Homo sapiens: one gene and its partners. The protein of the gene in region 4 purifies or fractionates together with the protein of the main gene of each other region. This does not show direct contact. Each region holds a gene or a part of one and is shown on either strand. Other genes may lie near its edges.

Region 1 (7,610 bases), on a different chromosome or scaffold from region 4:
ATTTGCTAGAGTAGATACCTTTTCTAGAGTAGATTGAGGAAATGGAATGTATGTCAAAAATAGCTTAGTTGGGTAAAATTACTGCTATATAATATAAAAACTGATTTTCAAATCATAAAATTGCTACTATATGTGGGATCTTTTGTGATATAACTCTAATTGCATGGCTAATTAAAAAGAGAATATATGTGATATTTTAACAGAGACGTGATTGGCAGCAGATGGCTGATTAAGGAGGAACTAGAAGAAATGTTAGTGGAAAAACTGTCAGATCTAGATGTGAGTAATTAATCTTTTTAATTTAAGGGGACCTATGCAATAAGAATACAGACAATTGCTGTATTTAGGATCCTAATAGTAATGTTCCTCAGAGGCAGGTGTTCCTACGATGACTTTTCTTTCTTTCTTTAAAAACAAAACAAAACAAAACAAAAAAACAAAACACATTCATCATTGATTTCTGCCTTGGGAGGACCTTATTTGTGGTCAGGGAGGTGACTTGTCGAGTCTCCAAGTCCTCCTCTTGTAAGTGCCCTCATATCCTGTGCCAGTTGTTTTAGGGAAGCACGGCAGATGTTGTTTCATCTCCTTACGTAAGGCCAGTAGCTAATTTTACAAGCTGATGATAAGTGTAAGGAGTCATTATAGGTTAAGTAGAAAAGGGATGCAGCACATGGTTACCTTCATGCAGTTTACTGCTTACCTTGTGTGCCATATCTGTAAGGTCAGTGGTTTTTATCTTGGGATCTGCAAACCACCTCTGTCGGAATCCCTTGAAATGCTGGTTACAAACTACAGTGTCCTAAGCCTCACCCTAGATCTAGCTCAGAATCTCTAGGGAGTTACCGAGGAATCTTTTTAACCAACTTTCCAGGCGAATCTTATACCCTATAAAGTTTGTGACCCCCTGCTTTAGGTCTTAATTGCATTCTTATTTTGTTAAATGTTCTAATATATCAACATTTTCACAGGACAGTTGATGTCTTAAACATTTTGATGTTCCAAATTTATTACTTTCTGGAAGATTGGGGTGTAGATAAATTTCACAAATTTTTCCAAGATGGAGATTTTCTTTGATGGCGGTGGCTAACATTGTTAGTACTTTGCCACCATATATAGATTTTAAGTCATGTACTTGAATTGTTCTTTTTCTCATTTAATGTATTATAGAAATTAATGATTTGGAAAAGTTGCAGTTTGCTTAAACAAAGTGTCAGACAATTGGTTAGTGGTAGATCCAGAGTTAATTTCTAATATCCTAACTGCCAAGTACTGCTCTACTTGAATCTAACTGAAAAATCTCTTTGCTTCTTCACTGAACAAGTAATTTCATTATTTCCTCTGTTTCTGGCTGCTTTGATTTTTTTTTAATAATTCAGGTATTTTTTCTGCTTTGTAATATCCCACGGACTTTAATACAGGTGTACAGCTATGAAAACAAAAGAAACAAGTTATATATGATACTTTGTACTTTGGGGTACTGGATATCAGAAGAAATCCTAATGTTTATGGCTGGTATCAAGATGAGGGATGTGGAGGTGGTCAGTGACTTCTTGACCTAGTTCAGAAGCAAGGCTGAGTTCCACCCATAGTGCCCCTTTGTAGGTGCAGAAGTCATTGAGAGTCTGTGAGATGCAATCAAGAGAGTAGCTGAGCACAGAACGCCCAGGCCAGTGACTGGAGAGGAGCATGGAGCTCTGCCCACCCAATATCCTAGGTAGCTGAGTATTTCACCCTTACTAGAAGAGTGCCTTCTCTTTCATTACATCATAGGAAGCTGTAGTCAAAGTAGTTCTTTTAATATTAATCTTACTGGTGAGATTTTTAAAAATTTCAAACTATTAATGGCAGATTTTTACAATAAAGGCAGTAGTGACAAAGATGAGTGTGATGTTTAACGCCGACAAAAAACATAAATAAGGTTATAAAAAACTGAGTTTCACAATCCATATTAACTAAGAATCTCAAGCATTAGTTGTTTCCTTCTCCATAAACACTTTAGAGTGATTATTCTGGCTTCTAATTTTAAGGGGTTAATTCCAAGTTGTTTACTTTCTAATCACATGTTCAAGAACTATTAAAAAAAATGCACAGAGGAGCAAGGATAATTTATTTCAAGAGGTTGCCCTTTAAGTCAAGTATCTCTTGAATTTTTAAATAGCTTGATTGTTCGGTTTTAAAGGAAATCATAAACATTAAAGTAACACAGCTTGAACAGCCAAAGATATATTTGCCAAATGTATTATGAAATATAATTTAAGAGGTACATTTTCTCAAAATCAAACTCTTTCCATATTACTATACATAACTTACTTGAAATTATTTATAAAGCTCCCCTTGATACAGTTCTAATAAAAGAGAGCAAATTACACTTGAAGATCATCTAAATACTTTTTGAAAGTGAATTTAAATCTCAATTTCATAAACATAATACAGAGAAATTGATTTTTCTTTGAATGATAAATCTCTTTGTTTCTTGAAAGAAAAGATTTGGCACTAAAGATACGCAGGAAAAGTGATGCATCTGCATGCTGTTTTAAAAGCAGCGTGAAGATGCAGAAGTGTCATCCTGTCAAAATTCATCAGGAAAAGCAACATTGGAAAGATCAAGTATGCAAAAAATAGAAAAAATTTAGCAAATGCAATTACACTTGCACCTTCTAATGAATTTTTATTGTCTGCAGTATATGCAGTTCATTCGGCTGCTAGAAAAGTTATTGACATCGCAGTGTGGTGCTGCTGAGGAAGAATTTGTGCAGAGGTTTCGAAGAAGTGTAACTCTTGAATCAAAAAAACAGCTGATTGAACCTGTACAGTATGATGAGCAAGGAATGGCCTTTAGCAAAAGTGAAGGTAATGACATTCTGTGGAGAGAAAATAAATTCAGTGAAGGTTGAAAAACTACAATTATTTTTATTTGCTATTGCTTTCTGGTATCCATTAGATTTTTTATTTGTTTATTTTTGCTACCGTTACTTTGGATTTCCTAATTTTTAAGATTCTGTTGAAGTTTTTCAAAACTGAACTGTATAATATCCTAAGAAAAAAATGTGGATGCATACCTATACAGTCATATTAACACTTTTTCTTTTCACACATTTATATTGTTGAATCTTTTAATTTTCACATTTTAAGCTGCTAGAATCGGTAAAATATTTATAATAAAGTTTTCTTTGCAAAAAATGAAAATGCTCAATGAATCTGCATATCAAATGCCAAAACTATGTAATGTGAAAACTTCACGTCCTTAACTCACATTTTTCTTGTTCAGAGCCATTAGACGTAGTCCAACTTTTACGACTTGAACTATTAAAATATTTACAACTCTTAAAAGATTTCACGTCATTGTCATTTTTAACTACTGTGGTGTTTTCAAAGAAATGTGACCTTTCCTGAGTATTTTTTTATTTCTACTAGTTATATTTCATCATACTATTTATATATTTCTAAAACTTATGTTGTTAGATATATTCTTACTGTTTATAAAAGAAGAATGCTATGTAAATTGGTTGTGGATTCTCGTAAGGGAAATGAATATAAATTACTTTGTTGGTTGTTCAAACTAATTTAAAATCATTGTAGTGTTTCTAAAATGGAATTGAAGAACAAAATTACCCCACAATGAGCTTTATTGCATCTGTTGTGCTGTAGTTTACCTGCTTTATTTTTGTTTGACTTGAAATAATAGTTATAGGACTTGCTTATGTACAGTGTTGTGTATTATTTTGGGGAAACAAATTTTAATGTAGTTTTACCTGTCTCAAAGCGCAGGTCTTCAAGATATTTACTAATAGGAATTTTATATTTTTGAAGGTAAAAGAAAGACTGCAAAAGCAGAAGCAATTGTTTATAAACATGGAAGTGGAAGAATAAAAGTAAATGGAATTGATTACCAGCTTTACTTCCCGATCACACAGGACAGGTTCGTTTTGGGTTCTGATTTTTTGTTTTTAAAGGAAACATACTTTATAATACATCATGATCATTTAAGAAGGCTTGTGATCTTCTAATTCTGTTTATCTGAATGATTATTTCTCTTTACCAATGTAACATATCAAACTAGCTAATTGAAGCTATTTTTTAAAGCAGCTTCCAGATTTTTTAAAAAGCATCTCTAGAATTCCTCATTAATTGACTCTTCTTCCCCTTTTCATCAGATCCTACTGCAGTTTGAGTAGTCTTAGATGTAGCTTATGTTCTGAAGTGCAGACTGTGCCAAAATGTAAAAAATTTTGATTTAGATTTCCACCTTCTAGTTTGGGGATGGGCGTGCACAAAACAAAACCACCACCACAACAACCAGCCTTGGCACTTAAAACTGACCTAACTCACAAGGCAAAGAAAAGTGCAAGTAATTTCTTGTGGCTTGTGTATGTTTTTCTGATCATAAATATTAGAAAAATTCTGCTTTATCATTTTGGATTTTTTCCTATTCAGAGGAATGTGATTATATATATTGAGCAAGCAAAGAAACCTAGCATTTATGGGTTAAAATAAGAACTCATCAGGCTTTGCTTAGTTCTGGGTGCTAAATATGGCAGTTTTAATTTTTAAACTTTGTATCCTATGGAGAAATAGACATTAATCATAAATAGATACTACAGCTCTTCTAATCTAAATATACTCATCTCAGAACTCTCTCTGACTTGCTATATAAAGGCCTCTTCTTGATATGGTTATTATTTTCCCAGTACTTACTGTCATTATCCACGAGTAACAGAAGTTTGGTATGATTAGTTCCTCCTTTCCTAATCCTTCTCCTGTTTCCTGCATGTGTTACGGTATTTAAGGTCAAAAGGGCTAAAACTCTTTTGATACCAATGCTGATATAGGCAAAAGAGGACCCTCCTAATACAGTGTAAGCTTCTGGACACAATAATTATTTTAGGAAATGTGTGTTTATTTTATTTGTGTGTGCCTGTGTCAACAAGCAGTGCATTCTTAACTCCATTTAAGATGAATTAGTTCTGCTATTATCCTCACAGGACAGGGGATGGAAGAAGCTTTTATTTCCCTTAGGAAAAGCCAGAGAGAAACCCATACCCCAGGGTTTGATAACTTCAACATTGGGAACTATAGGAGGACTGTTCTTTAACCAATAACCTGTCTGTTGATTTGTATTCAGACATAACTCCTGATGATTTAACAGCAAGTCTCAATTCTGGCTTGATCTCATAATGAAATTACATCTTTAGATCTTATTCTTTGGTTTGAATTCAGCAGCTTTTTACTAAGGACATCTATGTCTCCAGTCTTGTTCTGGGCATTGTGAAGATATCAGAGATATTTAAGATATGATTCCTATTGTCAAGAAACTTCCTACATGGTTGGGAAGCCTAAGCCTAGTCTTGGTGGGAATGGGCACCTACAACTATTTTAAAGTAGTTGTAAGGATTTAGGGCAGTCACTTCAGGAACTTACAAATCAGCAGTGAGGTGACCATTGACTAATAGGAAGACTAACCAACCCAGAATCAGGGATCTTGATCGGAATTCTGTCATCACCTAACACACAGTGAAGTGGGTTAGCCACGTAAGTGAAGTTACAAGGGAGGCTTCTGGACAGCCATTTGTTTGGGAGCTTAAACACTTTCCTGGCTTAATTTTTAAAATTTTATGATTCTTTAACAAATGCTTATATAAATAAAAAGAGACTTCAATTAAAATCTAGAAAAATAGATTTCATAATGTAATTACTGGATATATAACTGAGTCATGGAGCCAGATGGTCGAGGTAAATGCAATAGTGGAATTAGATTTTCAGTCTGTACATTTTTTTTTTCTTTTTTTTTTTTTTTTGAGATGGAGTTTCGCTCTTGTTGCCCAGGCTGGAGTACAGTGGTGCAATCTTGGCTCACCACAACCTCCGCCTCCTGGGTTCAAGCAATTCTCCTGCCTCAGCCTCCTGAGTAGCTGGGATTACAGGCATGCACCACCATGCCTGGCTAGTTTTGTATTTTTAGTAGAGACGGCGTTTCTCCATGTTGGTCAGACTGGTCTCAAACTCCCGACCTCAGGTGATCTGCCCGCCTCGGCCTCCCAAAGTGCTGGGATTACAGGCATGAGCCACTGCGCCCAGCCTAAATTTTCTTTTATATTTACTTTTTTTTTTTAAGAGACAAGGTCTCTTTATGTCACCCAGGCTGGACTCAAACTTCTGGACCCAGACTGGACTCAAGCTGCTGGGCTCAAGCAGTCCTCCCACCTCAGCCTCCTGAGTAGCTTGTACTTTAGGTGCTCAGCTTAAATTTTCTTTAGTTATCATAGTATATTAATAGATACTACTTATAATACTGTTTTTATAACTTATGGCTACTTTTCATTTGGTTTCTTGGAAGCATTTGTTCAAAAAGACAGTATAGATTTATGAGTTTTTTGTTGTTGTAGGAGTTATGTCATCCCTACATCGTATTGTTATAAATTCCGATTTGCTATGGCTTTTGAAAGTCATCTTTTGCCCATCTGCTTGTGATTATTTTACTAGTGTGGTATGAAGAATAGCACTTGAATGTCCTGTCCATACCTGTCTCTCAGCTTAACTGTGTTATATAAACTTGATTTTGGGTCTAGAAGCTACAGCATCAAAGAAAGCAAACGCAATATAAGTGAGCTTTTCTGCATAAAAGTGTAGCAAGATATTAAGGCAAAATAGCAAAATCAAAGTGCTTGACAGAGGTAATGGTGAACATCTTACCTGGCGTGAAAATGATATTCAACAAATACTTGTTCAGTTGAGCAGGAGAAAGTCCAGGGCCGTGTTTTGTCTGTGGTGCCTGCCCCAGGATCTTGTAGGCCCTGACCGACCCTGAAAGAGCAGGCCTGACAGGGGTTGTGTAGAATGTCACCTGGCCCCAGGAAGGTAGCAGGACCCTATGATTTAGAGAACTTTAAGAATATTGGGAATAGGTGTTTGGTGTCAGGGAAGTGCAAGGTCGAAAATAGTTTTAGAAACTTTAAAAACTAACCATATCAAGATGAGCATTATACATTATACAGATACACTTATAGTAGACTTTATTTAGTGAATCCAAATGACATGTGATAATTGTTTGGAAAGGCCTATTGATTTTATATCTGATCATTCAATCCAGAGACATTAAATTCAGTTGATTAATGGAGTTCCCCAACTGTAAGACTTCTTTACGAGATTATTTTCAAGCTTTGAAAAGATCTTCTGAGATAAAGGGGATCAGCAAACAGTAAGAGTGTGTTGCTATACCCAAGCAAAAGAAATAAATCTTAATCTCTCAGCAAATCATTCAAAATGTCAGAAATGTTAGTGTTTCTATATCTTGGTAAAATGGATTGATTGAGAAGTATGAAAAGTATAACAGTGGCATGCAGAATATTGTTTTTATGAATATTCAGAATTTCAGTTGTTTACATAATTATGTATCTTTATAGTAAACGTAACCACATTTACTTGTGCTGTGCTTTAGAGAACAGCTGATGTTCCCTTTCCACTTTGTTGACCGGCTGGGAAAGCACGACGTGACCTGCACAGTCTCAGGGGGCGGGAGGTCAGCGCAGGCTGGAGCAATACGACTGGCAATGGCAAAAGCCTTGTGCAGCTTTGTCACCGAGGACGAGGTCGAGTGGATGAGACAAGGT
Region 2 (7,610 bases), on a different chromosome or scaffold from region 4:
AAAATGTAGCCTGGTGTATGACACCTGTAGTCCCAATTACTGGGAAAGCTGAGGTGGGAGCCCGGGAGGTCACTTGAGCCCGGGAGGTCAAGGTTACAGTGAACGATGATCACATCACTGTACTCCAGCCTGGGTGACAGAGAGACCTTTAGAGAGTCTAAAAAAATAAAAGCTGTGGCCGGGCGTGGTGGCTCACGCCTATAATCCCAGCACTTTGGGAGGCCGAGGTGGGCAGATCACGAAATTAGGAGTTTGAGACCAGCCTGGCCAACATGGTAAAACACCGTCTCTACTAAAGATACAAAAAATTCACCAGGCATGGTGGTGCGTGCCTGTGATCCCAGCTACTCGGGAGGCGGAGACAGGAGAATCGCTTGAACCCGGGAGGTGGAGGTTGCAGTGAGCCGAGATAGTACCATTGCACTCCAGCCTGGGCGACAGGGCGAGACTCTGTCTCAAAAACTAAAAAAATAAAAGCAGTAAAATATTGGCAATTTCATATTTATACGCATTTTAAAAATGTTTAAACGTCATGCAGGCCAAATAAAACACATCTGCAGGTGACACCTGATCTCTGATCTATGTACTTCATTCACCAGTGAGTGATTGAGACTGATAGTTGAGATTGACTGATTTCCTTTTCCATTTTTTCACTTTTTTTTTTTTTTAGCTTTGCCACTGGCAGACAATCAAAATCTACAAGATTATATTACATGAATGAAATCTCTAACATTTGTTGAATACTCACTGTGTACTAGGTGCCATACTAAAAACATTACATATATTAAATTTTCGCAGTAACCCTATAATGTATGGTGGTTTTTTTGTTTGTTTGTTTTATTTTGAGACAGAGTCTTGCTGTGTCAGCCAGGCTGGAGTGCAGTGGCACGATCTCGGCTCACTGCAACCTCCGCCTCCTGGGCTCAAGCAGTTCTCCTGCCTCAGCCTCCCGAGTAGCTGGGATTACAGATGTGTGCCACCATGCCTGGCTAATTTTTGTATTTTTAGTAGAGACGGGGTTTCATCATGTTGGCCAGGCTGGTCTCGAACTCTTGATGTCAGGTAATCCGCCCACCTTGGCCTCCCAAAGCACTGGGATTACAGGCATGAGCCACTGCGCCTGGCCGTATGTTCTTTGTTAACCCCATTTTACCGATGAGAAATCAACGTTTAGGTTAAGTATTTTGCCTAAGATCGAATAGCAGGTGAGTGATGATATGAAATTAGAATCATCACATGTAATCTGTATTAACCTTTTAGTACAAAGTAGTATACAGTATAAGTTAACTAGCAATGTGACATGTAGACACTTTTAAAATTAGCTTTAAAGATAGGGCACAGTGGCTCATGCCTGTAATCCCAGCACATTTGGAGGCTGAGGTGGGTAGATCACTTAAGCTCAGGAGTTTGAAACCAGCCAGGGAAACATAGCAAAACCCTGTCTCACCAAAAAATACAAAAATTAGCCAGGTGTGGTAGTGCGCACCTGTAGTTCAGCTATTTGAGAGGCTGACGTGGGAGGATCGCCTGAGCCCAGGTGGTCGAGGCTGCAGTGAGTCAAGATGGCACCACTGCACTCCGGGGGTGAGAGTGAGACTCTGTCTCAAAAATAAATAAATAAATAGGCTTTAACATTTAGTATGCTTATAAACAAAATCTTTGGGGCCTGGCACGGTGGCTCACATCTATAATCCCAGCACTTTGGGAGGCCGAGGCACGTGGATCACTTGAGGTCAGGAGTTCGAGATGAGCCTGGCTAACATAGTGAAGCTCCATCTCTACTAATAATAGAAAAAATTGGGCTGGGTGCGGTGGCTCACGCCTATAATCCCAGCACTTTGGGAGGCCAAAGTGGGCGGATCACGAGGTCAGGAGTTCGAGACCAGCCTGGCCAATATGGTGAAACCCTGTGTCTACTAAAAATATAAAAATTAGCTGGGCGTGGTGGCACTCGCCTGTAGTCCCAGCTACTAGGGAGGCTGAGGCAGAAGAATCGCATGAACCTGGGAGGCAGAGGTTGCAGTGAGCCAATACCGGCCACTGCACTCCAGCCTGGGTGACAGAGTGAAATTGTGTCTCAAAAAAAAATAAATCATTGGGATAAAATGTTAAATAAAACATATGTAAAATTATATATGCAGCATGATTTCAGTTACAGTCATGCATCAGTTAAGGACAGAGATAGGTTCTGACAAATCCATTTGGTGATTTTGTTGTTGTACAAACCCAAACCTACTACACAGTAAAGCCAGCTACACACCTAGGCTATGTGGTGTGGCCCGTTGCTTCTAGGCTACATACCTGTACAGCATGTTACAATACTGAATACCGCAGGCAATTTTAAGACATTTACCTACATGTATCTAAACATAGAAAAGACACTAAAAATATGGTGTAAAAGATTTTTTAAAAGGTACACCTGTCTAGGACAGCTTTGTTATAAGATTATGGGGCCACCATGATATATATGGTTCATCATTGACTGAAACATTGTTATGTGGTGCATAACTATATTAAAAAATGAAAAAAGGAAAAAGCTATATATGGAAAATGAGACTAGGGCCAGGCTCAGTGGCTTATGCTTGTAATCCCAGTGCTTTGGGAGGCCAAGGCAGGAGGATCCCTTGAGGACAGGAGTTCAAGGCCAGCCTGGGCAACATAGCAAGGCCTCATCTCTACCAAAAAAAAAAAGTTAGCCGGGCATGGTGATGCGTGCCTGTAGTCCTAGGTACTGGAGTTCAAGGTTGGAGCAAGTTATGATATCACCACTGCACTGCAGCCTGGGCAACAGAGCGAGACCCTGTCTCCAAAAAAAAAAAAAAAAGAAAGAAAAGAAAATGAGACTAGAAAGAAATTAATTTGGACAGTAGGACTTACTTTTCTTCTTCCTTTTTTCAAATATTTTTCAAATTTTATTTACTAAGAATGTTTTAAAACAAAACAAATTTTTAAAAAATTAAAAGCAGAAGACACTAAAAGGCTTTGTGAATTAGTGTAAAATTTGACAGAAATGAAATTGAACACAAGAACTAAAGAAATTTTAAAAATAAGTTTTAGGCCGGGAGAGGTGGCTCATGCCTGTAATTCCAGCACTTTGGGAGGCCGAGGCGGGCGGTTCACCTGAGGATCCCAGCTACTCGGCAGGCTGAGTCATGAGAATCTCTTGAACCGGGGAGGAGGAGGTTGCAGTGAGCCGAGATCACGCCCTTGCACTCCAGCCTGGGCAACAGAGTGAGGCTCGGTCTCAAAATAAATAGTTTTAAAATTTGTGTTATGTTTCTTTTCACTGGTGAAACAAGATGTAGCTTAGGAAAAATAATATCTTTGCTTTTGTACTGCATAAAGGAATAATTTTTTAATGTTAAATATAGTGTATTAATGGAACTCCAGTCTAGGTGACAGAGTGAGACCTGAGACCCTGTCTCCAAAAACAAAAACACAACAAAACGTGTGAGCAAACTAGGAATAGAAGAGAACTTCTTAACCTAATAAATGTCAGCTATAAAAAACATAGCTAACATCATACTTAATGATGAAAGACAATGCTTTCCTTATAAAATCAGGAAAAAGAAAAGATTGCCACTCACAACCGCCAACGTTTTATTGCAGGTCCTAACCAGTGCAACAAGGCAAGAAAAAAGATATAAAATACAAAAATTGGAAAGATAAAAGTAACCATTCTTAGGTGACATATTTGCTTACATAGAAAATACTAGGGAATGAACAAAAAAACTGCTAGAACTAATAAGTTTAGTAAGTTATGAGGATATAAGGTAAATTTACAAAAACTTTATTTCTATATATTAACAGCAAACAATTGAAAACAATGACAATTTTAAAAAACAGTTGCATTTACCATAGCATCAAAAGGCATACTTACTTAGGAAAACAGTTAACAAAAAATGTGCAGAACCTTTGCACCAAAAACTACAACATATTTTCAAGAGGAATTTTAAAAGCTAGCATAACAAAACCCCATCTCTACTAATAATAGAATAAACAAGGTGTGCTGGCACATGCCTGTAATCCCAGCTACTTGGGAGGTTGAGGCACGAGAATAGCTTGAACCTGGGAAGTGGAGGCTGCAGTGACCCGAGATTGTGCCACAGTACTCCAGTCTGGGTGACAAAGCAAGATTCCATCTCCAAAAAAAAAAAAAAAAGACAAGTCTCACCCTGTCTTCCCAGACTGGAGTGCAGTAGCATGATCATAGCTCAGTGCAGTCTCAAACTCCTGGGCTCAAGTGATTCTTCTTCCTCAGCCTCCTAAGTAGCTGGGATTATAGACACCACGCCCAGCTAATTTTTTTTTATTTTTTGTAGAGATGGGGGTCTCACTATGTTGCTCAGGCTGATCTTGAACTCCTGGGCTCAAGTAGTCCTCCCACCTTGGCCTCCCAAACTGCTGGTATTGCAGGTATCAGCCACCATGCCTGGGCAACAGTGGGAATTCTAACACATGTTTTTGGAAATGTAAGTTGGTTGGGCCACTCTGAAGAACATGTAGTGAAGCTAAGGTAGGCATACCCTCCAGCCTACCAATTTCTTTGCTAGTGATACTGAAGCAGGAGAATAGGGTCTGGAGGCAGGGAACCTAAGGCCGATTCACAGTGACTTCCTAGAACTGAATCAAAAGGAGAACTCCACCTCTCTACACCCAAGTAACAAAAGGATCAGAGGCTACTCCCTTTGCACTGTATTACAGATAAAAAATGGAAAGTACCTCTGACTGGTCCCCTCCTACAACCAATCAGACTGGTCCCAGGCCAAGTCTTCATGTGTAACTTTGTAGCTTTGCTTCAGCCTCTAATTGGTCGCCTCCCTCCACCAGACTGGTGGTGGGCCAAGTCTTCATTTACATAGGGTGTAACCGAGTAACCAGTGGGAAACCTTAGAGGGTATTTAAACCCTAGAAAATTCTGTAACCAATGCACTTGAGTGGCTTGCTTGAGCCTGCTCCCACTCTGTGGAGTATCTTTTCATTTCAATAAATCTGTGCTTTCATTGCTTCATTTTTTCATTGCTTTGTGCATTTTGTCCAATTCTTTGTTAAAAATGCCAAGAACCTGGAGGACTCATAGGCAAGACCCTCCATTGGTAACAGAAGGATATAATATTTCTTTAAAAATACTGAAAATTATGGCAAGTATGTCAAATACGGAGAAAATAATTTTTTTTTTTTGAGACAGAGTCTTGCTCTGTTGCCCAGGCTGGAGTGCAGTGGCATGATCTTGGCTCACTGCAAGCTCCGCCTCCTGGGTTCACACCATTCTCCTGCCTCAGCCTCCTGAGTAGCTGGGACTACAGGCGCCCGCCACCACGCCCAGTTAATTTTTTGTATTTTTAGTAGAGATGGGGTTTCACCCTCTTAGCCAAGATGGTCTCGATCTCCTGACCTCGTAATCCGCCCACCTCGGCCTCCCAAAGTGCTGGGATTACAAGCGTGAGCCACCGCGCCCGGCCAGAAAATAAATCTTGTTGGTAGATACATGGGTGTTTATTATTCTCTGTACTTTTTTGAATATTGAAGTAGATCATACCAAAAGTGCAAAAATAAAACAACAGCTAACAGGTGAGGGAGTGGAGACAGTGAATGGGAATTGGCTCTTTTGAAAAGACCTGTTCCATCTGACTCCCATCACCCTTGGCTTCCAGACTCCAGACCTCTGTGGCACACAGTGCTGCAGCCTCCTCTTTTATATTATCTATGATCCCTTTCCTCTTAGCCACTACATTTGGTTGATGGGATTGGTTGTCTCAGAAGACCTTCATTTGAATCCTAGCTCTACTACTGGCTGTGTAGATCTCTGGGCAAGGTAACTTCTCTCACCCTCAGTCTCCTTAACTCTTAAATGGTAACAGTAATGTATTCTTTTTTCATTGATAGGCAAATATATATTGAGTACCTACTGTGTGCCCAGCAGCTACATTAGGTACAGAGATATGCTGGTGAAGACACCTGCTTTAGCAGTGATTCTTAACCTTCAGTCTCAGAATTGCCTGTGAAGTCCTGAAAAAATTAAACATAACTGGGCCTCACTATGGAAAACACTAATTAGGTCCAGAATTAATGCATCGGGTTGGGGTGCCTCTGTCTGTAACATCCCTTCACAGATGATTACAGTACTCAGGAGAGGTTGAGAATCTTTATGCCAGTCTATGGTCTGTGGGAGCAGGAATTGTGTTTTTCTTGTTTCTCATTATATTCCTAGAGCCTGGCACATGGTAGGTGCTCAATAAGTATTTGCTTAATTCTGAATAAGTAAAAGAAAAAAGACATTGTCACTGTCCTCAGAAACTAATAGTAAAACATGTTCTATGAGTGTTAAATGAAATAAAGTATGTCATAATGTTGACTGAGCTACTGGCAAAAAGTAGATGCTTAGTCAATTTTTGTTGAATCTTATATGTAATTTCTAAATCCCCATCTCTAGCCTTAGTCACTGGCTTCTAATAATTATATTAATACACACTAATTAATATGCATATAATCACAATTTTCTGTTGCTTATAGAACTCTTATCAGTGTTCTACCATCACCTCAAATACTGCATTTCTAAACCTGAAAGTTGCTTCTTTTGCCTCTTTTCTTCCTCCTTGATCTAGCTCTCTTCTAATTTTTGTCACTGACACCATCTTTTTTCCATTTGTCCAAGCTAGAAGCTTCTTAGTCATCTTTGAATCTTTATTTCTCCCGAGCCACATTTTATGATCATAGCTTGATGCTGAATCCCTATGATAGCACCATGAAGCAGTAGGGTGTAGTGGTTAAGATGGACCAGTATGAGACTGAAAATTTGATTTCTAGCTTTGTCACTTGCTGGCTCAGTGAGCTTAGATAGGTTACTCTGTCTGTATCACCTGTAATCTGCCTGTATTACCTGTAAATAACCTGAAATTCTGTCTGTATCACCCATAATCTGTCTGTATCATCTGTAAATAACCACAGGGAAATTGTAAGAATTAAGTGGTTGTAAGGTGAACACTGGCTAACATATAAATGCACTGTAACTGTTAGCTATTATTGCTAAATATTTTGTCTCTTCAGTTAAATTGTAGCTCCATGAAGATGAATATCATGCTGTTTCTTTTTTTTGGTACCCCTTCTGAAGCACCTAATCGCACTAGAAGGCACATAAGCAGGCTCGAAATACCTGTCAGATTTGGGAATACAGTAGTTACTTTGTTTTATGTTTAATATTAAAACATCCATTTTTCTTTAAAGCCTGATAAATAATTTTAGGACTTCTTTAGAATCTAATTCTTGCTATCTGAAAACAAGATTAACATAAACATGAAATTAAAGTGAAGCAAAATGAATGTGTTCTTAGTGAAACAATTACTTATTAGGTCTTATAATAACTTTCAGAGGTGGATATGCTGGGTCAGTGTTTCTGGAAATTAAGCATAACAACCACCTGGAGTGCTTGTAAAGATACAGATTTCCAGCCTCTAATCCATACTTCCTGAATCAGAACCTCCAAGAGAGGTCTGAGAATCTAGGGAGGTTTTTTTCGTGTTTTCTTTTTTTTTGAGACAGGGTCTCACTCTGTCACCCAGGCTGGATGGAGTGCAGTGGTGTGATCTTGGCTCACTGCAGCCTCAACCTCC
Region 3 (7,610 bases), on a different chromosome or scaffold from region 4:
GAAATTAGAGAGGAGGGGTGCTGGTCACTGTGGCTCATGCCTGTAATCACAGCACTTTAGGAAGCCATAGTGGAGGAGCATCTGAAGCCAGGAGTTCTTGAGACCACTGTCGGCAGCGTAGTGAGACCTCCATCTCTATATACAAAGAATTTTTAATAAATTAGCGAGGTGTGGTGGTGGGTGCCTATAGTCCTAGCTACTCAGGAGGATTGCTTGAGTGCAGGAGTTTGAGGCTGAAGTGAGCTATGATTGAGCCACTGCACTCCAGGGTGACAGAGTGAGACCCAATCTCTAAATAAAAATAAAGGCCAGGCACGGTGGCTCACGCCTGTAATCCCAGCACTTTGGGAGGCTGAGGCGGTCGGATCACTTGAGGTCAGGAGTTCGAGACCAGCGTGGCCAATGTGGTGAAACCCTGTCTCTACTAAAAATACAAAAGTTTGCCAGGTGTGATGGCTTTCGCCTGTAGTCCCAGCTACTCGGGAGGCTGAGGCTGGAGAATCACTTGAATCCGGGAGGTGGAGGCTGCAGTGAGCTGAGATGCAGCCACTGCACTCCAGCCTGGGCAACAAAGACTTTCTCTCAAAGAAAATAAATAAATAAAAATGAAATAAATAGGCCGGGCATGGTGGCTCAAGCCTGTAATCCCAGCACTTTGGGAGGCCAAGGTGGGTGGATCACCTGAGGTCAGGAGTTCCAGACCAGCCTAGCCAACATGGCCATCTCTACTAAAAATACAAAAAATTAGCTGGCTGTGGTGGCAGGCACCTGTAATCCCAAATACTTGGGAGGCTGAGGCAGAAGAATTGCTTGAACCCAGGAGGCAGAGGTCGCAGTGAACTGACATCACACCATTGCACTCCAGCCTGGGCAACAGAGGGAGACTCTGTCTCAAATAATAATAACAATAAATAATAAAATAAATAAAAATAAGCCAGGCACGGTGGCTCATGCCTGTAATCCCAGCACTCTGGGAAGCCGAGGCAGTGGATCATCTGAGGTCAGGAGTTCGAGACCAGCCTGGCCAACATGGTGAAACTCCATCTCTACTAAAAATACAAAAAATTAACCAGGCGTGGTGGTGGATGCCTGTAATTCCAGCTACTCGGGAGGCTGAGGCAGGAAAATCTCGTGAACCGGGGAGGCGGAGGTTGGAGTGAGCAGAGATGGTGCCATTGCACTCCAGCCTTGGCAACAAGAGTGAAACTCTGTCTCAAAAATAAATATATAAATAAAAATAAAAACATTTTTTAAAAAGTAAAGAGGGCTGGGTGCGGTGGCTCATGCCTGTAATCCAAGCACTTTGGGAAGCCAAGGTGGGTGGATCACTTGAGGTCAGGAGTTCAAGACCAGCCTGGCCAACATGGTGAAATCCTCTCTCTACTAAAAATACAAAAATGAGCCAGATGTAGTGGCGGGCGCCTATAATTCCAGCTACTCGGGAAGCTGAGGCAGGAGAACCGCTTGAACCCGGGAGGCGGAGGTTGCAGTGAGCAGATATTGTGCCATTGCACTCCAGCCTGGGGGACAGAGTAAGACTCCGTCTCAAAAAAAGGGCCGGGCGCGGTGGCTCACACCTGTAATCCCAGCACTCTGGGAGGCCGAGGCGGGCGGATCACGAGGTCAATAGATCGAGACCATCCTGGCCAACATGGTGAAACCCCATCTCTACTAAAAATACAAAAATTAGCCGGGATTGGGCCGGGTGCAGTGGCTCACGCCTGTAATCCCAGCACTCTGGGAGGCCGAGGCAGGTGGATCACGAGGTCAGGAGATTGAGACCATCCTGGCTAACACAGTGAGACCCTGTCTCTACTAAAAATACAAAAAATTAGCCGGGCGTGGTGGCGGGCACCTGTAGTCCCAGCTACTCAGGAGGCTAAGGCAGGAGAATGGCATGAACCCGGGAGGCGGAGCTTGCAGTGAGCCAGGATTGTGCCACTGCACTCCAGCCTGGGTGACGGAGTGAGACTCCGTCTCAAAAAAAAAAAAAAAAAAAAAATAGCCGGGCGTGGTGGCGGGCACCTGTAGTCCCAGCTACTTAGGAGGCTGAGGCAGGAGAACTGCTTGATAGATAATCATGAGATTCCGTCAAAAAATAATAATAATAATAAAGAGTAGATAGAGAATGATTATCAGGGGTAAAGATAGCATTGAGAAAGGTAGTCATTCAGTGCTCCTTGGTTGGTTAAAAAAGGAAAAAATTTGGAATATTAAAAGGGGGGAAGAAAAGGAAAGGTGGTCAAGAAAGCTCTTTTTGAGGAGGTGACTGGGAGCTGAGATCCAAATAACACCAAAAAAGACAGCTACACAAAGATCGTGGGAGAAGAGTGGCTCAGACAGAGGGAACTGCTAGTGCCACTGCCCTGAGGTGGGAAGGAATTTAGCTCTTTGAGGAGAAGAAAGGAGGCCTCTGTGGGTAGAGCCCAGTGGGCCAGGGAGAGGAGTGGGAGGTGAGGTAGGCAGGTGTGTGTGTGTGTGTGTGTGTGTGTGTGTGTGTGTGTATTTTTAGTAGAGATGGGGTTTCACCATGTTGGCCAGGCTGGTCTCAAACTCCTGGCCTCAAGTGATCTGCCCAGGTAGGCAGGATTTAGATGGTTTGGGGCTATGCTGGCCATGGAAAAGATATTGGTCTTTTTCCTGGGAGCAGTGGGAAGTCTCATGATTCAACCTGGGGGAGAGAATGGAGACTTGGGTTCGAGTCTGGCTCCTTGACCAGCTGTGTGTCCTTGTGTACAGTTTTTCCTTTGTGGGGACCTTAATCTCAATATCTGAAAAAGAGGTGTAGTGAACACTTAAAATGCTCCTCTCCTGAGAGCTCGTGGAGACCTAAGGATGTGTGTTTGGTTCTTAAGTATTGGTTGGGCAGGCACGGTGGCTCACGCCTGTAATCCCAGCACTTTGGGAGGCTGCGGTGGGAGGATCACTTGAGCCCAGGAGTTCTAGACCAGCCCAGGCAACATAGCAAGACTTCATCTCTACTAAAAATAAAATAAAAATTAGCCAGGCATGATGGTGCATGCCTGTAGTCCCAGCTACTTGGGAGGCTGAAGTGGGAGGATTGCTTGAGTCTGGGAAGTCAAGGCTGCAGTAAGCCATGACTGCACCACTGCACTCCAGCCTGAGCGACAGAGTGAGATCTTGTTTCAAAACCAAACAAACAAAAGTATTGGCTGGAATGATCCAGAGTGTATTTAAAATACAGATTCCTGAGGCCTACCTCAAGCTCTTTAATAAAAAAAAAAAAAAAAGTCTGGGCGTGGTGGCTCTCGCCTGTAATCCCAGCACTTTGGGAGGCCGAGGCGGTCGGATCACGAGGTCAGGAGATTGAGACCATCCTGGCTAACACAGTGAAACCCCGTCTCTACTAAAAATACAAAAAACTAGCCAGGTGTGGTGGCAGGTGCCTGTAGTCCCAGCTACTCAGGAGGCGGAGGTTGCAGTGAACCAAGATCGCGCCACTGCACTCCAGCCTGGGCAACAGAGTAAGACTCCATCTCAAAAATTATATATATATATATATATATATATATTTTTTTTTTTTTTTTTTTTAATGGTGGGATGTTAGACAGAGACCTAGCCTACCTGGCCTCTTTGTGTAGCTGGGCGCATGCTGAGACCAACCTGGCACTCCCCTACCTTTTCCCCTGGGAAGTGCCATGGGAGGAGGGATTTCCCCTCCAGCTACCTGGTGTCTAACTCACAGATAGGAAGGCTGAGACCCAGAGCTGGCAAGAGGCAGTAGAAGGGCCAGAGCTCAGAACCACTGGGTCAAGCCCTCTGAGAGGGAAGCAGAGACATAAAGGGTGCCGGCCAGGGTCTCAGGGCAGTTCTGCAAGGATGAGAGAAGACACAGGTATGACCTGAGCTCAGGGTTCTGGTCACTGTGGGGCTGGCGGAGGCAGCAGACAAGCGTAAGAGGCCCCAGACCACTGAGCAAGACCCCAGCAACTTAAGGCAAATTAAACACCTGGACTGAAGTCCCAGCTGCTTAGGTTACCCATTGTGGGACCATGGGCAAGTCACTTAACTCTTGGAACCTCGATTTATTCCTCTGTAAAGTAGGGACAAGAATCCCTATCTCAGAAAGGTATAAGACATTAAATTAAATAAACCAGCACACCCAGCAATGTGTCTGGCTCTAAGAAGACGCTTTGATAATTGAGGACAGTAATTATTTTTGACTCATTCATTCCTCACCCAACTCTGTCAGGTAAGTACTGTCATTATCTCCATTTTTCAGATTAGAAAACTGAGGTTCTAAGACATGCAGTACATTACACACGGTCACATCAGCTGGGAAGTGATGGAGGCAAAATCTGAAGCCAGACAGTTTGGCTTCAGGGACTGGGCACTTAACAAAATACTGAACCATTTCTCTGGACCTTGGTTCCCTTATCTGTGAAAATGGAATAATAGAACTTTCCTCATGGGGTTGCCATGAAGGGTAACTGAGCTAATACACATAAGGAGTTTAGGATACTGCCTGGTATTTGGCGAGTGCTCAGTAAATGTGAACTATCTTTTTTATCATTTATTTATTTATTTATTTTTGAGATGGGGTCTCACTCTGTTGCCAGGCTGGAGTGCAGTGGCACCATCTTGGCTTACTGCAACCTCAGTCTCCTTAGGCTCAAGCATTTCTCCTACCTCAGCCTTCTGGAGTAGCTGGGAGTACAGGCATGCTCCACCATGCCTGGCTAATTTTTGTATTTTTTGTAGAAATGGGATTTTGCTATATCGCCCAGGCTGGTCTTGAACTCCTGGGCTCAAGGGATCCACCCGCCTTGTCTTGAACTCCTGGGCTCAAGCGATCCACCCGCCTTGGTCTCCCAAAGTGCTAGTGTGAGCCACTGAACCTGGCCCAAGCTATCATTTTTATTAAGGAGGAACATTATCAGGCAGACTCTCCAGAAACCGTCTGGAAGAGGTAGTGAGTACCTCATCCAGAAATAGGGAGGGATCCCTTGGAAACTGTAGGAAGAATTCAAGTCATCAGAAAGGTTAGAATTCAGTCCCTTTAACTTATCTTCAAGCCCCAGGATTGATTATTGATTGATTGATTGATTGAGACAGTGTCTTGCCCTGTCTCCCAGGCTGGAGTGCAGTGGTACAGCCTTGAACTCCTGGGCTCAAGCAGTCCTCCCACCCCAGCCTCTCAAGTAGGCAGTACTACAGGCACATGCCACCACATCTGCTAATTTTTATTTTTAGTAGAGATGGGGTCTCACCAGGTTGCCCAGGCTGGAGCGCAGTGGTACGATCATAGTTCCCTGCAGCCTCGAACCCCTGGGTTCACAGGATCCTCCCGCCTCAGCCTCCCACGTAGCTGGGACTTAAGGCGCATGCCACCACACCTGGCTAAGCCCTAGGATTTAGTGGGAAAAGTGAAATAACCAAGTGAGAATAAGATGGAGTTTTGTGGGATTGGGGCCAAACCCAAAGGGGAGATGCTTGAGGATCCTCCTGGTGGAAGTGGGGCTCCAGTGAAGGACTTGTCAGATTTGGAACAAGCAGGAAGGACCTGGGGATTTGCATGGTGTGGTGGAAGCCATGGAAAGTTCTTGAGCAGGGAACAGGAAACATCATTCATTACTTTTGGGAGAAGACCGGCTGCATGGGGTTGGGGAGGGAGGGCAGCGTGCAGGCCTGAGGCCGGGATTTCAGGCAGAAGGGTGCTGACTTTAAGGATGTGGCCCTTGCCACGCGTCAGGGGCTCCTGTGTCCTCCCTGGGTCAACCAGGTAAGCTGCTTCTCCCGCCCTTTCCTGGCATAAGGGGCCCTGAGTCTCTGTATTTCCCCTAGCACCCTCGTGGCTCAGCTCAGTTTCCTCCTCCTGAACCCCAGTGTCATAACTTAGAAGCCACCAACCCCTAACGTGTCCAGATGAGGAAATAGTCTTTTTATTTTTTTTTTTTTGAGACGGAGTCTTGCTCTGTCGCCCAGGCTGGAGTGCGGTGGCACGATCTTGGCTCACTGCAAGCTCCGCCTCCCAGGTTCACACCATTCTCCTGCCTCAGCCTCCCGAGTAGCTGGGACTACAGGCGCCCGCCACCACGCCCGGCTAATTTTTTTGTATTTTCAGTAGAGACGGGGTTTCACTGTGTTAGCCAGGATGGTCTCGGTCTCCTGACCTCGTGATCCGCCCCCCTCGGCCTCCCAAAGTGCTGGGATTACAGGCGTGAGCCACCACGCCCAGCCGGGCGGAAATAGTCTTATAAACAACACTCATTTCACTGAGGTCTCATAGTAATCCACAGGGCTGCAAGTAGAACGTAGGCCCCCTAGCCTCTGGGCACACCTGGCTCCCTGCAGCCCCCACTCCTCAGACCCCTTCCCCCAGCAGCAGCTGCTGAGCACTCCTTAAGTGGATCTGCCATAATCCTCTTCCCTTCATCCCCCAGGGAGGATGAGCTGGTGTTAAGACTAATACAGCCATTAATCCTGTTTCCTCCCAACCATGATCCCCAGGAGCAGCTGGGTGGAGGGCGTCTGGGTTCTGGACCAGAAAGTAGGGATCTCAGCTAGAGCTGGTATCCCAGGAGGCCATGTTAGATCAGATACATCAGTTATGACTCAGAAAGAGGCTTCCAGCTGCTAGCAATGGCTCAGGCTGCCTTGAGTGATTCTCCATTACCAGAGTTGTGGGAACAGGCCAACAAGATTCCAGAGCAGAGAGTGGACAGATTCCAGTCTGGGGCGGAGGCCCGTACAGCTGTGCAAGGCCAGAATTCTGTGTGAACAGTTGCTGTCTCTGAGGACTAACCATCCAGAGGAGGAAAGAAAACACAAATGCTGGGGACCTGTCACTTCCAGACAGTGCCAGCTACCAGATTTAGCCCATTGGCTCAGCCCTTTTCTGGTCCCAGGTCTGTCTTTTCTGGGCGCTTGGAGACCTTCAGGCCAGGCCCACGTCTGGGTACACTCTTTATCCTGGCATAGTTCTTGGACACTGAGCTGAAGAAGGAAGATGGTGAGACAGATGGAACCTGGGCCTCTGGGAATGCCACAGTGTTTGGAAAAGCCCGTTGGGGGCGGGGGGGGACGTGTAGGTGAATCTTTTGTGACCCTCAGCCTCCTTTCTTAGTGGCTCTGCGGACACTTGGTCCAACTCCTTTCTTCAATGAGCAGATCAGGGAGGAAACGAACGCAGGATGTCAGAGCCAGGAATGCTGGGCAGGAAGGATGTGTGGGTTCCGAGGTGAGAAATGCAGATGAGATAGGGTTCTCTCTGAGGCTTTCAGGAGTGGCGAAGGTATGTGGCTTTGGTCTAACTTTGCTTCTCTTGCAGAGAAACCCCGTTCACCAAGGCCATGGAAGTGGAGGCTGCAGAGGCCCGGTCCCCAGCCCCCGGCTACAAGCGCTCGGGCCGCCGCTACAAGTGCCTGTCCTGTACCAAGACATTTCCAAACGCGCCCAGGGCAGCGCGCCACGCTGCCACACATGGGCCGGCAGACTGCTCTGAAGAGGTGGCCGAGGTGAAGCCAAAGCCAGAGACAGAAGCTAAGGCAGAGGAAGCCAGTGGGGAGAAGGTGTCAGGCTCCGCGGCCAAGCCTAGGCCCTATGCGTGTCCGCTATGCCCCAAGGCCTACAAGACGGCACCCGAGCTG
Region 4 (7,916 bases):
CACTCACAGGACACTAGGACTGGGGCCACAACCGGGCAGAGGAAAGTCCTGGGGCAGGTAAGAGAGGCCACTGGGTGTGGAGGAAGGAAGCCCGGCTCAGCGTCAGACAGACCTGTGTTTAAACCCCAGCTCTGTGGCTGTGTGCCCTTGGACCAGTTATTCAACGTCTCTGAACCTCAGTTTCCTCATCTGGCAAACTTTGTTAAGACTGCACTAGTTGGCCAGGCACGCTGGCCCACGCCTGTAATCCCAGCACTTTGGGAGGCCGAGGTGGGTGGATGACCTAAGGTCAGGAGTTCGAGACCAGCCCGGGCAACATGGCGAAACCCCGTCTCTACTAAAAATACAAAAATTAGGCCGGGCATGGTGGCTCACGTCTGTAAATCCCAGCACTTTGGGAGGCCGAGGCGGGTGGATCACCTGAGGTCGGGAGTTCGAGACCAGCCTGACCAACATGGAGAAACCCCGTCTCTACTAAAAATATAAAAAATTAGCCGGGCATGGTGGTGCATGCCTGTAATCCCAGCTACTTGGTAGGCTGAGGCAGGAGAATGGCGTGAACCCGGGAGGCGGAGCTTGCAGTGAGCCGAGATCCCGCCACTGCACTCCAGCCTGGGCGACAGAGCGAGACTCCGTCTCAAAAAAAAAAAAAAAAAAAAAATTAGCCGGGCGCAGTGGCGCGTGCCTGTAATCCCAGCTACTCAAGAGGCTAAGGCAGGAGAATCGCCTGAGCCCGGAAGGCAGAGGTTGCAGTGAGCCGATATTGCGCCATTGCACTCCAGCCTGGGTGACAGAGCGAGACTCCATCTCAAAAAAAAAAAAAGACTGCACTAGTATTGGCTGGGTGTGGTGGGTCACACCCGTAATCCCAGCACTTTGGGAGGCTGAGGCAGGAGATTCATTTGAGGTCAGGAGTTTGAGACCAGCCTGGCCAACAAGTGAAACCCCGTCTTTACTAAAAATACAAAAATTAGCCGGGCATGGTGGTGCATGCCTGTAGTCCCAGCTACTGGGGAGGCTGAGGCAGGAAAATCACTTGATCCCGGGAAGAGGAGGTTGCAGTGAACCGAGATCATGCCACTGCATTCCAGCCTGGGCGACACAGCAAGACTCCGTCTCAAAAAAAAAAAAAAAAAAAAAAGATTAGCTGAGGTGATGTATAGAAATGCATGGTGCCTGGCACGCAATAGGGGCTCGGTGAGTGTTGGTTCCCTTCACCCCTTTTAAGGCTTGGTGTGTCCCAAGGGCCTAGGAAACTAGGTCCAGATAAGTTAAGTCAATCTCTGTCCTTAGGCCACCTGCGCCCCACCCTCAGCACCTGTTTTTGCCTGTGTGACCTCAGACAAGTGACTGCACCTCTCTGAGCCTCAGTTTCCTCCTCAGTAAAATGTGGATTGTACCTCAAAAGAGATCATCATAAGCCAGGCACAGTGGTGGGCACCTGTGGTTCCAGCTACTCCTGAAGCTGAATGGGGAGGATCGCTTGAGCCCAGGAGTTTGAGACCAGCTTGGGCAACATAGTGAGACCCTCATCTCTATAAATAAATAAATAAATAAATAATAAAATCAATAATCTAAAGAGAGTAAAGAGCTAAATAAATGTCAGCTGCTCTTGTTACTCTTTTTCCTCATTAAGTTTATCATCACTTCTTTTCTTATTGTTTTTGTTTTTTGTTTTGAGACAGAGTTTTGCTCTTTTGACCAGGCTAGAGTGAAGTGGCGGGATCTCGGCTCACTGCAACCTCTGTCTCCTGGGTTCAAGTGATTACTCGAGTAGCTCAGCCTCTCGAGTAGCTGGGATTACAGGCATGCACCACCACGCCCGGCTAATTGTCATATTTTTAATAGAGATGGGGTTTCATCATGTTGGTCAGGCTGGTCTGGAACTCCGAACCTCAATTGATCCACCCACCTTGGCCTCCCAAAATGCTAGGATTACAGGCATGAGCCACTGCGCCTGGCCTGTTTTTTTTTTTTTTCTTTTTTTTTTTCAGAGATGGGGTCTCACTCTGTCACCCAGGGTGGAATGCAGTGGCATGATCACAGCTGCAGTGCAGCCTCAAACTTCTGAGCTTGAGTGATCCTCCCACCTCAGCCTCCCAAGTCGCTGGACTATAGGAGTATGTCACCACGCCTGGCTAATTTTTAATTTTTTGTAGAGACAGGGTCTTACTATGTTGCTCTACTGTCTGTCGCCAGGCTGGGGTGCAGCAGCGCAATCTCGGCTCACTGCAACCCTCCCGGGTTCAAGTGATTCTTCTGCCTCAGCCTCCCAAGTAGCTGGGACTACAGGCGTGTGCCACCATGCCCAGCTAATTTTTGTATTTTTAGTAGACATGGGGTTTCACCATGTTGGCCAGGATGGTCTCGATCTCTTGACCTCGTGATCCTCCCGCCTCAGCCTTCCAAAGTGCTGGGATTACAGGTGTGAGTCACCGCGCCCGGCTTGAGCCTTCACTTTTCATCTCCAACCACTCTGGGTGGGAGTGGAGCCCTGGCAAACCAAGCAGGTCGAAGCCTGGGACTGGGAGGAGACAGACCAGCTGCAGAAGGTGACTCTCTGGGCACCTTCAGCCAGGGTGATGCCTCTACCCAGGAAGGTGCCAAGGGTGGCTTTAAGGCACTGCCACTAAGGGGCAGAAGCAGCTGGTCAGAGGTGCAGTCCAGCACCCTAAGGGAGCCCCCTGCATTGCTCTGGGCCACAGAACTGAAAGGCCAGGCCTGTAGTTTAAGGGTAACTTCCAGCTGGGCGCGGTGGCTCACGCCTGTAATCCCAGCACTTTGGGAGGCCGAGGTGGGTGGATCACCTGAGGTCAGGAGTTTGAGACCAGCCTGACCAACACGGAGAAACCCCATCTCTACTAAAAATACAAAATTAGCCGGGCATGGTGGCACATGCCTATAATCCCAGCTACTAGGGAGGCTAAGGAAGGAGAATCGCTTGAACCTGGGAGGCGGAGGTTGCAGTGAGCCGAGATCGTGCCATTGCACTCCAGCCTGGGCAACAAGAGTGAAACTCCGTCTCAAAAAAAAAAAGGTAACTTCCTCTCAGGATCCCACATAGATTTCCCAAGCAGAGGAGCTGTATGGAATGAATTCAGCATTCTGGAGTGCTGCACTTACTGCCTGCCTCCTTCCAAAACTCAGAGTCAGGGTACAAAGATCAGCTGGGCGTGCTGGCAGGTGCCAGTAATCCTAGCTACTCAGGAGGCTGAGGCAGGAGAATTGCTTGAACCTGGGAGGCGGAGACTGCAGTGAGCCGAGATCACAACACTGCACTCCAGCCTGGGTGACAAGAGCGAAACTCTGTCTCAGAAAAAAAAAAAAAAAAAGCGGATGAAGGATTCTGGCATACAATCCAAGTGACTAAAAATCCCCTTCAGGCGTTGTTTCACTGCAATCTTTCACAACCATGCCCTCATTCTCAGTCAAGGATGTTATTATACACTCATTCCACCTTTGGGCAAAGTGAGGCACAAAGAGGGAAGATGGCTTGTGCAGAAAACACATGTATGCGTGCCTTATGTTAGACAAACTTTACATAATTAACTTCCTCACAATCACAGCTGTCAAGGTTTAGTCCACGGACCAGCAGCATTAGCATCACCTGAGAACCTGCTAGAAACGGAAATCCACTCAGAAACCTCTATCGGATCAGAAACTCCGGGGTGGGGCCCAGCGATCCAGGTTTTTAGCCCTCTAGGGGATTCTGATGTATGCCAAAGTTCCAGAACCAGTGTCTACAACAACCCTACGAAGCTACTATACTTTCCCTTATTTTACAAATAGGGTGAGGCACCGCGAAGACCATTGGTCTGGGACCACACAGCTGTAGGTGTGATGCCAGTATACAAATCCAGGCAGTTTGGCTCCCTCTTGGAGACTACCAACGAGTTGACATCAGCATCTAAAGTAGGGGCCAGCACGGTGGCTCACGCCTGTAATCCCGGCACTTTGGGAGGCCGAGATGGGAGGACCACTTGCGGTCAGGAGTTCAAGCAGTCTGGTCAACATGGTGAAAACTTGTCTCTACTAAAAATGCAAAAATTAGGGAGTATGGTGGCGCACACCTGTAATCCCAGTTACTCAGGAGGCTGAGGCGGAGAATTGCTTGAACCTGGGAGGCAGGGATTGCAATGAACCGACATCCGCCACTGAACTCCAGCCTGGACGACAGAGCGAGACTCCATCTCAAAAGCAATAATAATAAATTAAAGGAAAAAAATATCCAAAGTAGGGTTAGTACAGGAAATTTGGGCCATTCACGAGTAACTCCATATTGAGTGTGTGCCAGGCACAGTCCTAGGCAGTGGGGTCCAGGGGACCTCGCTCTCATTGAAGCGAGGCTGGGGAGGGGCTGGAGCTGGGAGTCACGGAGAGATCAGGGACCAGCGCGTCATGCATGGGAAGAGGGAAGAAAAGGAGCTGGGAGGTCCCTTTAAAAGGCTGGGCCTGGTGGACGGAACTTCGGTGCGACGCTAAAGTGTGCGCCCGGGAGGATGAGTACGCTACACCCGGAAGTGTCTTCAGGGAGAGGAAGCCGGCGGCCTCACTGCTATGGGCCGCAACAAGAAGAAGAAGCGAGATGGTGACGACCGGCGGCCGAGGCTCGTTCTTAGCTTCGACGAGGAGAAGAGGCGGTGAGTGGCAAAGCCGGACCGGACTCCCCTCGAGCTGTTCTTCGCGGCCAAGGCCAGGTCTGGGGCCGAGCACGCTCCCGCCGGGGGCTCTTCCGGTCCCGCCCCCTGGCGTGGCTAGAGAACCCCTCTCGGCCTTCCAGCCCGCGTTCCCGCTTCTCCCTTCTCGGCCGCCACCTTCTCCCTTCTTGACCTCCCCACCTCGCCTAGTGTCTGTGCGCCGCCAGATAGCCGGAAGCTCGGGTCTCAGAGCAGTGGCTTCGACCACCCTAGCCCAGCCCAGTCCATCGGTCCGGCACACAGCAGGCGCCCAGCCGTGGTTGATAAATGATGAGCCAATGAAATGAGAGTGGCTTAAGTTCATTCATTCGCTCCCTAGACATTTATTGGGCTCCTTTGGTGTGCCAGGTCCCGTATCAGGAAGCAGAACCTCTGAGCCTCAGCGTCTGGCCAGATAAATAAATGGCACATGGTAGCGGGTCAGCGAAAAGCCCAGTGCTGGACCGTGGGACAAAATGGGAACAGAGCAGCTAGCACTGTGGAGATGAGAAGGGGCTGAGATTAGACCGAGGGAAGGAGGTAGGGAAATGCTGGGCATCATCAGGAAACTCCTAGCGTGCATCAACAGGCCCTACAGGCGAGTTTAGGGTCAGGTGTCCTGGGGACATGGGTGTTGGTCCAGTGCAGGGTTTCCGAAGGTCTGGATGGTGGTGGCCCTGAAAACCCTGTTGAGAGAGTAATGAGGTTTGTAGGTGTGGAAGGGGTTACCTCATGTACTGTGTGTGGCCCCCCCCCCCACCCGCCCCACAGCCTGGCCCTGTTGCCTGAACCTGAGATCCCTGGAGAGTATTGAGTGGAAAGAGGCAGTATCTCCCTTATTTTCCTAAATGTATCCTTTCTCTAACCTTGGGCAAGTAACCTAGACTCTGTGACTCAACGTTCCCATCTGTAAAATGGAGATTGATACCCACCGCACAGGTTATTGTGAGGGTTTTTTGTTTGTTTTTGAGATGGAGTCTGTGTCGTCCAGGCTGGAGTGCAGTGGCATGATCTCGGCTCACTGCAACCTCCGCCTCCCAGGTTCAAGCAATTCTCCCCGCTCAGCCTCCCAAGTAGCTGGGACTGCAGGCATGCGCCACCAAGCCCAGCTAATTTTTGTGTTTTTAGTAGACACGGAGTTTCACCATGTTTGCCAGGCTGGTCTTGAACTCCTGGCGTCATGTGATCTTCCCACCTCGACCTTCCAAAGTACTGGGATTACAGGCGTGAGCCACCATGCCTGGCCATTGTTGTGAAGGTTAAATGAGCTAATACTTACACTTTTTTGGAATGGTGCCTAGCACATAGTGAGCGCGGCATTAGCCATTTTTCTCCTAGAGCGAGCCCTTCTCTCCTTGTATAATGACTCTCCTGTCTCTGCCGGCTTCCTTCCTGTAGGGAGTACCTGACAGGCTTCCACAAGCGGAAGGTCGAGCGAAAGAAGGCAGCCATTGAGGAGATTAAGCAGCGGCTGAAAGAGGAGCAGAGGAAGCTTCGGGAGGAGGTACGCAGGGGGAAGGTGGGAGGGAGGTCTTTGATTCTTAGGGCACTTGCAGCCTTGGATTTCCCTAATAGAGGCAGCTGCTGGCATGGGGCGATGTGTGTGTGGGCAGGACTGGGGAATAGTTTATACAGGTGGAGACTCTGTGGGCCCGGGTCTGGGAGTGATGGAAGATGGAGTCTCCTCCTGATCTTGCAGTATGGATCATGGTCTCCCTCACCCTGGGGGTGATTAATACCCCAGCCTGAGGTTGGACTGAGAGGCCATACTCACTGTGTTCCCTGCCTGTGTGGTTTCAGCGCCACCAGGAATACTTGAAGATGCTGGCAGAGAGAGAAGAGGCTCTGGGTAAGTGGCATGCTTGGCCTGACCTGGAGAACAGCTGATGGGCCTGGTTTATACCCTTGGTGGGTGGAAGGGATAGAAGCTGACCTCCTTGGCCCTAGGGATCTTGGGGGGTACCCTGGGGCCAGGGGTGGTCCTAAGCACCTCTAAGTGCAAGTGGAACAGAGACCAGGAGAAGGAGTCCCAAACCCCATGGTTAACCAAGCCTGAGAAGAGAGCCCAGTTTTTAAGGATGGAAAGGACTAGGGGTGGAGGGGAGGGACAGCAGTAGCTGTCACAGAGGGTTTGTCTGACATGGGGACCAGCTAGAGCATGAAGGAAACGGGATCATTCACAACATTCATCCACAGACCAGGCTCTACAGCCAGTGACCTTGTGGATGCGCTCCACGTCCACAGAGTAGAGGGGGCACTGCACTCCAGGGCGGGAGGGAGGCTGGAGCCTGGTCACTCGTTCCCGTGACTGAGACCAGGTCTGTGTCCACCCCCACAGAGGAGGCAGATGAGCTGGACCGGTTGGTGACAGCAAAGACGGAGTCGGTGCAGTATGACCACCCCAACCACACAGTCACCGTGACCACCATCAGTGACCTGGACCTCTCGGGGGCCCGGCTGCTCGGGCTGACCCCACCTGAGGTGGGTCCCAGTCTCAGCCCTGGGAGGAAGGGGCGTGGGGGCAGACCAGCTTGTCAGGGTTGCTCAGTGCTGGCCCATGTCATGGGTATCCCACTGCCAGCCCTGGGAAGAAGGGGCGTGGGGGCAGACTGGCTTGTCGGGGTTGCTCAGTGCTGGCCCATGTTGTGGGTACCCCACTGCTGGGGCTCCTTCCCTTTGGACCCTTCATTCCCTGCTTCCGGGGTGCTGCAAAGACCAGCCCCACTGCTGAGCGGCTGAGGAGCTTGGGCAGGCTCCTTCACCTTGCCTGCTTCCCTTTCTCCATCAGTGAACTGGGGGTTGCTGATGGTGGCACCTGCCTTGTGGGATTGGTATGAGGGTGAAAGTGGTTAATCCATGTGAGTCACCTGGCACAGTGCCCAGCCCTGTCATAAGTGCTTCACAAAAGGTAGCCGTTTGTTGTGATCGTTCCCTTTGTGCGATTCGCAGCCCTGGCACGTCTGTGTGCACTAAGTGGGTTTTCAACCTGTGGGTTGTGAATCATGAGTAGGTTGCAATCAGCATAAAAAAAAAATATAATTGAAAATATCCGAAAGTGTCATGTTAAATATTGTTTCATGAGACAGCTGTTTCCACTGGAGTTGTATCTGGGTGTGCCTAAGGATTTATGGACATATATGCACACAATTACGATATAAAACACATTTCCTTGTGTGGGTTACTGTGTTCTTAAGTCCTGGAGCCACTCCCCTATCACATCCATACTGATCTCAGGGCCAG

What was found.
Region 1: the proteins of NOL12 (region 4) and MRPS9 purify together in Homo sapiens (affinity purification with mass spectrometry; 4 studies listed by BioGRID and IntAct, with this or other methods). This does not show direct contact.
Region 2: the proteins of NOL12 (region 4) and SRSF12 purify together in Homo sapiens (affinity purification with mass spectrometry; 3 studies listed by BioGRID and IntAct, with this or other methods). This does not show direct contact.
Region 3: the proteins of NOL12 (region 4) and ZNF668 purify together in Homo sapiens (affinity purification with mass spectrometry; 3 studies listed by BioGRID and IntAct, with this or other methods). This does not show direct contact.

The regions. Positions count from the first base shown.
Region 1 is NC_000002.12:105,089,717-105,097,326, forward strand, and holds part of MRPS9 (small ribosomal subunit protein uS9m), read left to right. Parts: exon of another isoform or gene 1-203; coding exon 204-279; intron 280-2,684; coding exon 2,685-2,853; intron 2,854-3,813; coding exon 3,814-3,922; intron 3,923-7,335; exon of another isoform or gene 7,336-7,438; coding exon 7,439-7,608; exon of another isoform or gene 7,609-7,610.
Region 2 is NC_000006.12:89,107,662-89,115,271, reverse strand, and holds part of SRSF12 (serine/arginine-rich splicing factor 12), read left to right. Parts: intron 1-7,610. UniProt on the Homo sapiens protein: Splicing factor that seems to antagonize SR proteins in pre-mRNA splicing regulation.
Region 3 is NC_000016.10:31,064,163-31,071,772, reverse strand, and holds part of ZNF668 (zinc finger protein 668), read left to right. Parts: intron 1-6,743; exon of another isoform or gene 6,744-6,973; intron 6,974-7,087; exon of another isoform or gene 7,088-7,154; coding exon of another isoform or gene 7,155-7,201; intron 7,202-7,291; coding exon of another isoform or gene 7,292-7,313; coding exon 7,314-7,610. UniProt on the Homo sapiens protein: May be involved in transcriptional regulation. May play a role in DNA repair process.
Region 4 is NC_000022.11:37,681,836-37,689,751, forward strand, and holds the start of NOL12 (nucleolar protein 12), read left to right. Parts: upstream 1-4,507; 5' UTR 4,508-4,557; coding exon 4,558-4,640; intron 4,641-6,074; coding exon 6,075-6,180; intron 6,181-6,476; coding exon 6,477-6,525; intron 6,526-7,014; coding exon 7,015-7,157; intron 7,158-7,916. UniProt on the Homo sapiens protein: Multifunctional RNA binding protein that plays a role in RNA metabolism and DNA maintenance. Participates in the resolution of DNA stress and the maintenance of genome integrity by localizing to sites of DNA insults.